Linked DNA regions of Homo sapiens. The protein of the gene in region 3 purifies or fractionates together with the protein of the main gene of each other region. This does not show direct contact. Each region holds a gene or a part of one and is shown on either strand. Other genes may lie near its edges. The genes, in order: UBE2O, AHCYL1 and FGF11.

Evidence for each region.
Region 1: the proteins of FGF11 (region 3) and UBE2O purify together in Homo sapiens (affinity purification with mass spectrometry; 3 studies listed by BioGRID and IntAct, with this or other methods). This does not show direct contact.
Region 2: the proteins of FGF11 (region 3) and AHCYL1 purify together in Homo sapiens (affinity purification with mass spectrometry; 3 studies listed by BioGRID and IntAct, with this or other methods). This does not show direct contact.

The regions. Positions count from the first base shown.
Region 1 is NC_000017.11:76,446,533-76,450,184, reverse strand, and holds part of UBE2O ((E3-independent) E2 ubiquitin-conjugating enzyme), read left to right. Parts: intron 1-3,652. UniProt on the Homo sapiens protein: E2/E3 hybrid ubiquitin-protein ligase that displays both E2 and E3 ligase activities and mediates monoubiquitination of target proteins. Negatively regulates TRAF6-mediated NF-kappa-B activation independently of its E2 activity.
Region 2 is NC_000001.11:109,991,193-109,994,844, reverse strand, and holds part of AHCYL1 (S-adenosylhomocysteine hydrolase-like protein 1), read right to left. Parts: intron 1-3,652. UniProt on the Homo sapiens protein: Multifaceted cellular regulator which coordinates several essential cellular functions including regulation of epithelial HCO3(-) and fluid secretion, mRNA processing and DNA replication.
Region 3 is NC_000017.11:7,442,360-7,445,437, reverse strand, and holds the end of FGF11 (fibroblast growth factor 11), read right to left. Parts: intron 2,845-3,078; coding exon 2,646-2,844; intron 2,363-2,645; coding exon 2,292-2,362; 3' UTR 501-2,291; downstream 1-500. Other genes in the region: CHRNB1 (acetylcholine receptor subunit beta precursor), read right to left, coding at 29-168, 253-310.

The DNA.
Region 1 (3,652 bases), about 69 Mb from region 3:
GTAAAGGAAAGACCATTAGACCAAGATTGACTAATCTAGTTATGAGATTTGAGAACCCAATTATTGACAAAATAATGTAGTGGCAGATTTTTTTTTTTTTTTGAGTTACTGGTTTGTTTATTATTTTTGGGATGGGGTCTCACTGTTACTCAGGTGTCCTTGAATTCCTGGTCTCACACAATCCTCCTGCCTCAGCCTCCCAGGTAGCTGGGACTACAGTAGTGATGGTTTTGAGAAACTTATTTTTTATTTATTTATGTTTTTGAGACGGAGTTTTGCTCTTGTTGCCCAGGCTGGAGTGCAATGGCGCCAGCTCGGCTCACCGCAACCTCTGCCTCCCGGGTTCAAGCGATTCTCCTACCTCAGCCTCCCGAGTAGCTGGGATTACAGGCATACGCCATCACGCCCGGCTAATTTTTTGTATTTTTAGTGGAGACGGGGTTTCTCCGTGGTGGCCAGGCTGTTCTTGAACTCCTGACCTCAGGTGATCCGCCCGCCTCGGCCTCCCAAAGTGCTGGGATTACAGGCAGGAGCCACCGCACCCGCCCGAAACTTATTTTTTTTAATAAGCTGCTACCTATTGAAAATTTTTGTGTGTGAGTTTCTTTTTTAAACAGAGTCTCTCTCTGTCACCCAGGCTGGAGTGCAGTGGCACGATCTCAGCTCATTACAACCTCAACTTCCCGGGTTCAAGTGATTCTTGTGCCTCAGCCTCCCGCATAGCTGGGATTATGGGCATGCGCCATCACACCCAGCTAATTTTTGTATTTTTAGTAGAGACGGCAGTTTGCCATTTTGGCCAGGCTGGTCTTGAACTTCTGGCCTCAAGTGATTCACCGGCCTTGGCCTCCCCAAGTGCTGGAATTACAGGCATAAGCCACAGTGCCTTGCCCCATTGAAATTTTTTAGTAGTATCTATTTAATGTGGAGTGTTTCATAGGGTGTGGCGTATTTTTGTAGTTTTCTCTGTAAATTGGAGGGCAATGAGTAAAGGCTTAATCTTAGTCTCAAGTTTTTAGTGAACAAATTTACAAAGAGAGATGAAGAGACTGGGCAGCAAGTCATGTCCTTTCCCTGCTGCCTTCATGAAAATAGCAACAGAAACAAAGTAAGTTCTTCCATGAAGCTATGGAATTTGTCGTGTTCCTGAGGCTTCCAGCCACCAAAATTAAGCCTCTTAAGGACTCAAAAGGAGCTAGTGGCCAGTGTCTCTTATATGCTTCTTCCTTTCTCCAGTCTTCTGACCTGTTCAGCGAGGTAGCCACTTGAAACTGTCCATCTGGCCATGGATCTCCTTAGAGGAGGCTTGCCCCTTCCCCATCACCAGTCATCCTTTGAATAAAATTTTGTAACAAAGCCAAATGCCAGCAGCCACTTAAACCTTCATGAGCACTGGCTAGACGTGGTGGGTCCTTCTGGTCTCCACCTGTCATGGTTGGGCAGAACAGCCCCCTGCGAGGTAAGGGAGCAGGACTGCTGTCTGTCAGTTCAAGTTCAGCCTTCGTTTCGGAGGCAAAGCGTTTATGCTTTAGCTTTCTTGTGCTTTTTCATCTCTTTTGCATTGTCTTTTGTTTTAAGTTGCCATGACATTCAGGGTTTCACCAGGTTTGAGATATAGTGCCTCTAAATTAGGGCTGTCTGTGATCACCCTGCTTTTATGAAGCTGTGTGTGTGAAACATCCCTGATGACAGGTCCCTCGGGAATTGGCTTTGCAGTTTATTTTTGGCTCCTACGCTGGCCAGCATTTCCATGGGGAAAGCTATTTAGGTGTAGCATCATGGCACGTGAAGTTTGTCTCACTTGTCTGGGTGCTGGGCCCATTAAAAGCAATTGTTCTTAGTGATGTAATGTGAAGAAGTTATATAAGGTTAACCAAGATGCAGGACTAAGTGAATCTAAATTGCGTTTTATTCAGATAGGATCACAGCACTTGTAGACTCTTAACAGCTGTTCTGTGATTTTATTCTTTGTCCCTTGATTTTTCCCCTTCTAGCCCTCGGGCCTCAGTGCCCTGATGGTGCTTCTGTCTGGCTGCTGCCTGACTCAAGGGTACTTTCCCCAGATGAAGGGTGTGTGTTTTGTACTGTGATTGGAAGCCAAAACCCTTGGGTGCTCTTCCTGGCTGTCACCTACTCTGAATGACCTTGACCAAGTCACTGCCTCATTTTCTCCCTCTGCAATGAAATAAGAGGTCTATCTTCCTAACCCCGATATGATCCTGCTCGGATGGAATAACCAGAAGTGTAGCTGGGTCAAGCCTAGGATGGCCACTTGGTTATTAGCAGACAGCATTCTGATGTCTGTCAGAGAGAGCCAGCCCTGTGCCTTCAGAAGATCACTTCCATGAGAAAGAGGGTGATGCTGCACCAAAGAGGCACCTTGGGAAGCAAAAGGTGCACGAGGCGGGTTGTGGGGAAGGTGGTTGTTTCAGGGGCATAGGAATTCCTAATGGCTCGTGTTGCTAGTGACCAGATGGATTATAGGTTTGACTTTATTAAACCTCTTCTAGAAATACTCATGAACTTCCTACCTCTGTTACTTTGTGAGAAATTCAGTAATGCACATTTAAAGTAACCCCGGCCGTCCTCCAGGAGGGGGATGGAATGAATCTGTATGTATGTATGTATGTTTCCAGAGTCTGAAAGGTCTCTTGAAATTCTCAAGACTGGTAATGAGATTATAAATTACAAAGATGATAGAGTATTGCTTTATATTTTAAGGTAATAAGAGCAGTCATGATCCAGGATACTGTTACTGTGTGCCAGGCACTCTTAGTGCTTTAGATGTTTTACTTCACGCTCACAACAACCCTGTGGTGCTATTATTAGCCCCATATTCCAGAGAAGGAAGCTGAGGAACAGAGAGGTTAAGTAAATTGCCCAGTGTCACACTTCTAAGTGGAGGAATCTGAATACAAATTGAACTAAATGTACTTTGTTCTCACCTGAGAATACTTAAGTTCAGGATTCAGAGATCATTACTATACGTGACCGAGTGCCCTGATCCAACATGAATCACAAGCCTTGTGGTTGGCATTAATCATCCCTTCTTTAAACAGTTGAAAGTCTTAGTGTAATAGGAGGTACTACAAGTGAGGAAGGAGAGAGGCACAGGATGTTGGGATAGGTGGAAGTTGTGCCAGTGGGCAGGCAGGAGGGAGGGAGATGATGGGTAGGGAGCAGGACGGGAGGAACACTGCATTCGCACTGGCGGTGTGCTTCTGCAGATTCCACTCTTTTCATTCCCTGACCCCTCAGTCATTCTCAAAATAACTGTCAAAAACACATTGCATTTCTAGAGAACCTTTGACTGCCCCTCAATGTTGAATGAAGCAACCTCTGTAGTCTGATTCATTCCAACACTGAACTGCAGTTCAGTTTTATTCCCCAACTCCACCTCCTAGAGCAAAACAAGTGTGCAGACACTCCACGTAACTGGCATTTCTGTGTTGCCTCAGAAGTGGTCAGCTCCATTAGGAGCTCCAACTTGACCTCCTGTCCGCTCTGCTGCTGTCATCCTTCGGCTGGGAATGCTGAGTCATGAGACAGGTTCAGGAAGGATTCCTTGGAGAGGCTGAGTTCCACCTCAATTTCAGTTTCTGTTCCCTTCAGTTTCCGTGTGTTTTTGCTTTAGGACATTAGAGGCCTCTTT
Region 2 (3,652 bases), on a different chromosome or scaffold from region 3:
AATTAACATTCACAATTCATCTAGTCCAGCATGACAAGCCAGCTGGGCTACTTCTCATAAATGAACACTGGGAATCTTCATGTCTTGCTTGCTAAGAAAGCTGGTGCTCAGAAGCTGGGCACTGAACCCTCAAGTATTGAATAATAAGTGGGATACCACCTGGCCACCCATAAGAAACTGAATTAGTTACCAAAGCAACTGGATACATCTGCTATCTCTAGGAAGCACCTATTTCAACTTCCAAAATAGCAAAATTTGCCGGGTGCAGTGGCTCATGCCTGTAATCCCAACACTTTGGGAGGCCATGGCGGGTGGATCACCTGAGGTCAGGAGTTCGAGACCACCCTAACCAACATGATGAAATCCCATCTCTACTAAAAACAAAAACAAAAACAAAAAAAACACCAAAAAAAATTTAGCCAGGTGTGGTGGCACATGCCTGTAATCCCAGCTACTTGGGAGGCTGAGGCAGGAGAACTGTTTGAACCCGGGAGGTGGAGATTGCAGTGAGCCGAGATCGTGCCATCACACTCCAGCCTGGGCGACAAGAGCAAAAATCCATCTCAAACAAACAAACAAACAACACAAAATAGCAAAATTCTGAAGGTCTCCTTTTCCCCTGAATCTTGCCTAAGTTATACACTTGAAGTGAAACAGAACACACAAAATGTAGTGCCAACTAGAGCCTGAGCTTCTGGCTAGGATAAGCATTGGCCCAGTTCCCAGAAGACTGTAATTCTAAAGAAGGTGTGTTTCAAAGAGAGAAGGGCATGTATAGCTTTTGAGCATCAAACTCAGCCTTTGACTCAGAAGGGGCAGCCAGGGTTGCAGAGTAAGAACCAGAAGTTTGCTCATCACTGCCGGACGGAGCTGTTGTTTATTACTTTCAGAGTTCCAATGTACTTTCCAAAATCAAACTATTCAACTCATCGCTAATCCCCAAACCTCAAATACCCTATGTGAAAGCCTCCCTGTTCTTTAAATCAAGAGCATGTATAAACCAGGATACCAGTTTCAACTTTGGACAGAGTCTCCCTAATGCTAAGGGTTTAAAAGTTGTTTCAATGGTGAGAAATTCAAGTTACCTTCCCCATTATTGTCTAAGGATATCCCTATGCCCACTGCCACTGGGCTAAGAAGCTGGAGGCATATATTCAGATGTCTTCTCCCTGACCTCCTATTTCTGGCTTTATAAAGGGATCTATTAAGTTGGAAATTCTCATCAATTTCTCACCTGCAGTTCTTGGTACTTCCTTATACCTATGTGAGAGGGCTCTAAGTTAGAAAAATCACCCCAGCCAACTGAAAGGGAAAGTGAGTCAAAGCCACCACATAAGTCCAACTTACTTTCTCCAAGGAATGATTATCTCACATTATTTTATTCAATAAGCATTTATTGACAGTATTATGTGCCAGGTACTATATAAATATGTGTGAGATACGGTCTTTGCCCTCAACATATTCCATCTAGAAAAGTCAAATGATGAGTAAAATTCAAATATCAGGTCAGTCCTTAAAATATAATAGTTTGAGAAGTACTACATTGAAATCCAACCTATTTTTGAGAGACATACAGAAGCAAATTATTTTGTTTAGTTTTGATAATCTACTATGTGAGCTACTATTTCAAACACTCCTACGGAATCAGCTCTGGAGCTTCAGGGGCATCTGCATTTCATATGAAGAGCAGTAGAGTTGAGATAATACCAAAAATTCCCCCAAAGTGGCCGAAATGCCGGTTCGAATGTGTGTTAAGTTCCTGAGCTGAACTCTCAAGGCACTTATAATGAGTCTTTTGGGAAGCTGAGGAGCATCCCAAAGAGGGAGCTGACAATGCCAACAACCTCAGCTTTGTTCCAAGCCATAAGGACAAACTGCAGGCTGGAAACTTAAATCTCTTAGCAGTTTGTGGACTTGTAATGAAAAGAGATGCTGTGGCTTGGAGGCCTGGCCTTCCACATCAGGACTTTAAAACCCAGGATCCATGAGTTTCAGAAGTCCCATAAATCCTCTAACAGAATACGCATATTTTTGTGCTCCTGAATTTTCCTGAGGAAAGAACCAGGATTTTCATTAAACTCTTAAAAGGACCTCTGACTCAAAGAGTAAGAACCATTGTTCTACAGTCTCTAATCCAGTGATTCTCAAGAGCATTCCCTCAAATAGGCAAAAGAGAAGCATATTCCAATTCTCTATCTTCTACACAAATCTGTCTACTTACTGACCTCTCTTCTAAAATTAGAAACAAAGATGGGGATGTGCATTTTGAAAATTCAAAGTGAATCTCTATTTTCTACATCCCCAAAATAAAGCTAACAGTCATGAGAACCTGAAGTCTTCTCCTTAAAGTCTTTGAGAAAGGAGAAGGGGTGGGTCTGGTCAAAGAGGGCAGATCAGAATCTCTGTCCTTTAACTTTTTTTTTTTTTTTTTTTTTTGAGACGGAGTCTTGCTCTGTTGCCAGGCTGGAGTACAGTGGTGCGATCTTGGCTCACTGCAACCTCCACCTCCTGGGTTCAAGCGATTCTCCTGCCTCAGCCTCCCGGGTAGCTGGGACTACAGGTGTGTGCTGCCACACCCAGCTAATTTTTTTTGTGTTTTTAGTAGAGATGGGGTTTCACCATGTTGGCCATGATGGTCTCGATCTCCTGACCTTGTGATCCTCCTGCCTCGGCCTCCCAAAGTGCTGGGATTACAGGCGTGAGCCACTGGGCCCAGCCTGTCCTATTAACTTTTATGGTAGGTCTCTCTCTTTTCTTCCCCCCGCCCCCAGATTTCTGGAACCACAAAGGAAACAGGTCATGGCCCAAAAGCTTTGACGTGAGGTCTTGACGTGAGGTCAAGCCAGTCTTGGGGGAAAAGGGACAAAGTATTTCCCATTAAGCATATGGAAACCTATGTCCCAAAGGTTCACCTTAATACAATTAGTAAGTACTAGAAGAGTTGGAGCCATTTATTAAAAACAGAACTTCCAAAATCCTCTCATTGCTCAAAACTCAGTATGAACGGCTTCATTCAGGAAGTCTAAGTGAATGAAAGATGGTTATACTCATCTCCTCCAGCCTCTTGCCCCTTTACTCTGTCACTCACAAATTTACTACGTAGTTCACACTGAGCCACACATCATTGTGGATCAGCACATTAGCATTTTCCTTGGCACACAGGCTCAGAGGGATTCCACTAATGCCATCGTACACTCGCAGGTTCCGGAGAGAAAAGAAAAACATGTCAACAATAGGGTGTGCTCTTGCTGAGCAGTTCCTCAAATTGTGAAGAAGTAAGCCTGAGGCAGGTCCAAGATGAACAGCATGGAACAGAGAGCAGTCCCAGACCCCTCCTGTTTAATATGCCCCATTTCCATCACACAACTGAGTACAGGCTGTCCACTTTAAAACAAGTGAACTGGCTTGGGCTGGTAGAGAAGAACATGTTAAGCCCATTAAGCCCCACAGGTTAAGTACACAGGCACATCAGCGGAGGCGTTGGGGCTTTTATGGTAAGAAGCAGGAGCATGCTTGGAGAGTCTTGTACCTGTGGTTCTCAAAAGTACTTTTCCAATCTCTACCCCAGATTTCCAAATACTACCTTTTACCAATAGTTCATTAAACTTTTTACTTTGTGTTCCATTTGGGTAGTGAATGATTAAGCCCCCCA
Region 3 (3,078 bases):
CTGACCTCCACCCCCCGCGCGCCCTCACCAGGCTGATGAGTTGCGCCAGGATGAGACCAACGCTGACCCTGACACGGTCTCCCACCTCCCGCGCTGGCCGCACGGAGCTATCATAGCCAGAGAAAAGTTTCTCCCGGAGTCGACCCTCCGCCTCCGAGCCGCGGACGCCTGGGGGAGGAGAGAATAAGTGCAGCCCTGGTGCCTGGCCACGACCGCTGGCCCCGTCACTGCCCCTTCGGGGCCTACACTTACCTGGGGCGAGCGGCGCCCCCAGCGCCCCCAGCAGCATCAGCAGAGCCCCTGGGGTCATAGCCTGGCGGCTCGCTCAGTGACTTCGCTCAGAGAGCCGCTGGGACCGCCAGCACAGGGGAAGTGACGAGGAGCCCGGGAATGTGCACCTGTTGCTGGAGGACAGCCGCCAGCCCACCCGCCCCGCCCCCGGGACTTGATCCTGCCTCGAGCAACTGCCAAGCCCGCCACCGACAGATGACAGACAGCACTTCAGTTGTATAAATCGTCTTTAATTGAGAAAGCTGGAGTGGAGACCCGATCCCCTGGGAGCAGTGCCAGGAGTTGGGTGGAGACTGAGTGGGGTTTGTGTGGGTGAGGGGGCATCTACTCCTCTTGCAACAAGCCAGAAGTAGAACAGCCTAAGGAAAAGTGACCTGCCTTGGAGCCTTAGTCCCTCCCTTAGGGCCCCCTCAGCCTACCCTATCCAAGTCTGAGGCTATGGAAGTCTCCCTCCTAGTTCACTAGCAGGTTCCCCATCTTTTCCAGGCTGCCCCTAGCACTCCACGTTTTTCTGAAAAAATCTAGACAGGCCCTTTTTGGGTACCTAAAACCCAGCTGAGGTTGTGAGCTGTAAGGTAAAGCAAGTTCTATCCAATTAGAAGCTGTTGGGGCGTATGAGGTCTGGAGTGCAAGAGGCCTTCACCCTTCTTGGCCTGACCTGTAGGGGAGAAGGGTGAGACTTATTGCTGAATTGGGGTCTCCTCACTGGGAGGGTCAAGGCTGTATCCATTTGTCCTTTTTATTAAGGACATATTACTCTAAGGACCTCAGCTTTAAAGGGGACCTGGAAGGAATTCCTGCTGAGGTAGCTAAGTATTCATGTCCACCCAACACAGATGCAGGTTCAGTCATGCCATAATTTTGACCCCTCCCCCATCCCAGCTTCCCTACTATGAGCCAGGGATCCTTCCAAAATTCCTCTGCCCTTCTCCAGACTCTGTCTCCCTGGCACGACCTCAGCTGGGTTGAAGGAGCTAGAAACTGCATGTAAAAATAAGCTTAGCATTCTATATGGAAGAATCATATTTTTAGAGAATTATCTAGGAAAAACAAGAAATGGTTCTTGATTCATCCAGAAGTGTTTTTATGAATCATAGCTGGGTCTTTTCCAGAACTCATCCGTAATAGGTATCACTCAAGAAGGCGGGAGGGTGGGGCTAGAACTTACTTAGAACAATAATATGGCTATACAGGCCCCAGCTCCATCCTGGGTAAAAGGGCTGAGAGTCATGATCTATGTCCTAGAGCTAGGATTCAGGGGGAAGTACGGCTCCATAAAGCTCTAGAATTGGGTGTCTCTGGGATAAGAAGGTTAAACCCGTGGTCATCTGAGACTGGTTCCGGTTCAGGCCAAAGCCAACAGCTAGACAAGGCCCAAATCTAGCCTCTTTCTACTTGGAAACCAGGGGTCCATCTGAGTCAATGACAGAGGCCTGACAGATCCAGAGAAAAGGCTGGCAGCATGCCTGGGTTCCAGCACAGAGCCCTAGTGCAGAAGTGGCCCTGGCGAGGGTGTCCAGTGTTCCAGAATGTGTCCAGACCAAGGTAGAAGGTAGAGTAGGGAAAGAAGGACACATGAATCCTGAGCTCCAGTGAATCTAGAAATGGCTCAGTGGCAATGAAAAGGGGCACAGGACTCCAGGAACTGGCTGAGCCGGGGTGGGAAGTGTTTATGCCCTGGCTGTCCATGTGGGAACTCCCAGCGCCATCTCAGGAAAAGGCATGGCGTTGTGTGAGTGTGGAAAGAAAGAAGTGATCAGCCAGGACCATCTTCAGACATCCCCCTCTCTGACTCCCTCCTAGGCCCAAAGATCTAAGGGTCTCAGCAGCCTCGGAAGTCACAGTCAGCCCCTAGGCTCCCTCAGGGTAGAGCACCTAGTGGGACCTGGCTGCTCAGGGCATGTGTGTGGCAGCAGGGGTGAGAGCAGGACTGGGAGACAGGTTGTGGTGGTGGCTGGCTCACTGGGAGTGCAGGGAACCTCCAGTCCAGGGACTACATTTCAGGGGGCAGGGGGACTGGAAGGGGAGGCCTCGGGGACACTGTGGAGAGAAGGCTCCTGGTACATGGCCACTGTGAAGGGGAGAAAGAGAGGAGCAGGGAAGGAGAGTTAGGCACAGAGGGACCCAGGCAGAACCAGTGCTCCAAAAGGGCTCCCTTCCCGTACATTCACCCTCCAAGAACCCCAACCCCACAGGAGGACCGCACCCAAACCCCCAAAGGGCAAAGCCTTCCTGGCTTGATCTGTCACAAAGGGTCCTCTTATCACTTGTAGCCTGAGCTGTCTGCCCCTAAATGTCCATATCAAGGTCAATACCCTCTCCTGTGGCCCACATTTTCTTGAGTCTATACCCACCCTCCAGGAGCTTGGGCAGAAAGTGGGCAGCTGCCTTGGTCTTCTTAACTCGGTTTCCCTTCATGACCTGGCCCTCCTTGTCCAGGCCGAGGTACCAGGCCCGGCCAGAACGACGCTGGCGGTAGAGAGCAGAGGCGTACAGGACGTAGTAATTCTCAAAGACACACTCCTTAAAGCGACACTCAGCTGTGAAATGCGGCTAAGGAGACAAAGACCCAGAAAGGCGCACAAAGACAGAGAGATAAAAAGACACATCACTGGGCAGAAAGGAGCTCATGGAAAGCACAAATCCTTTTTGGGGGAGGGGGAGGACAACTTCTGAGTCCATGTAGGACCTGGGAGCAAAGGGAGGACAAGGAAGAGGGCTGAGGGCTAAGAACTAGGCTCTGGGCCAAGCACAGTGGCTCATGCCTATAATCCCAACACTTTGGGA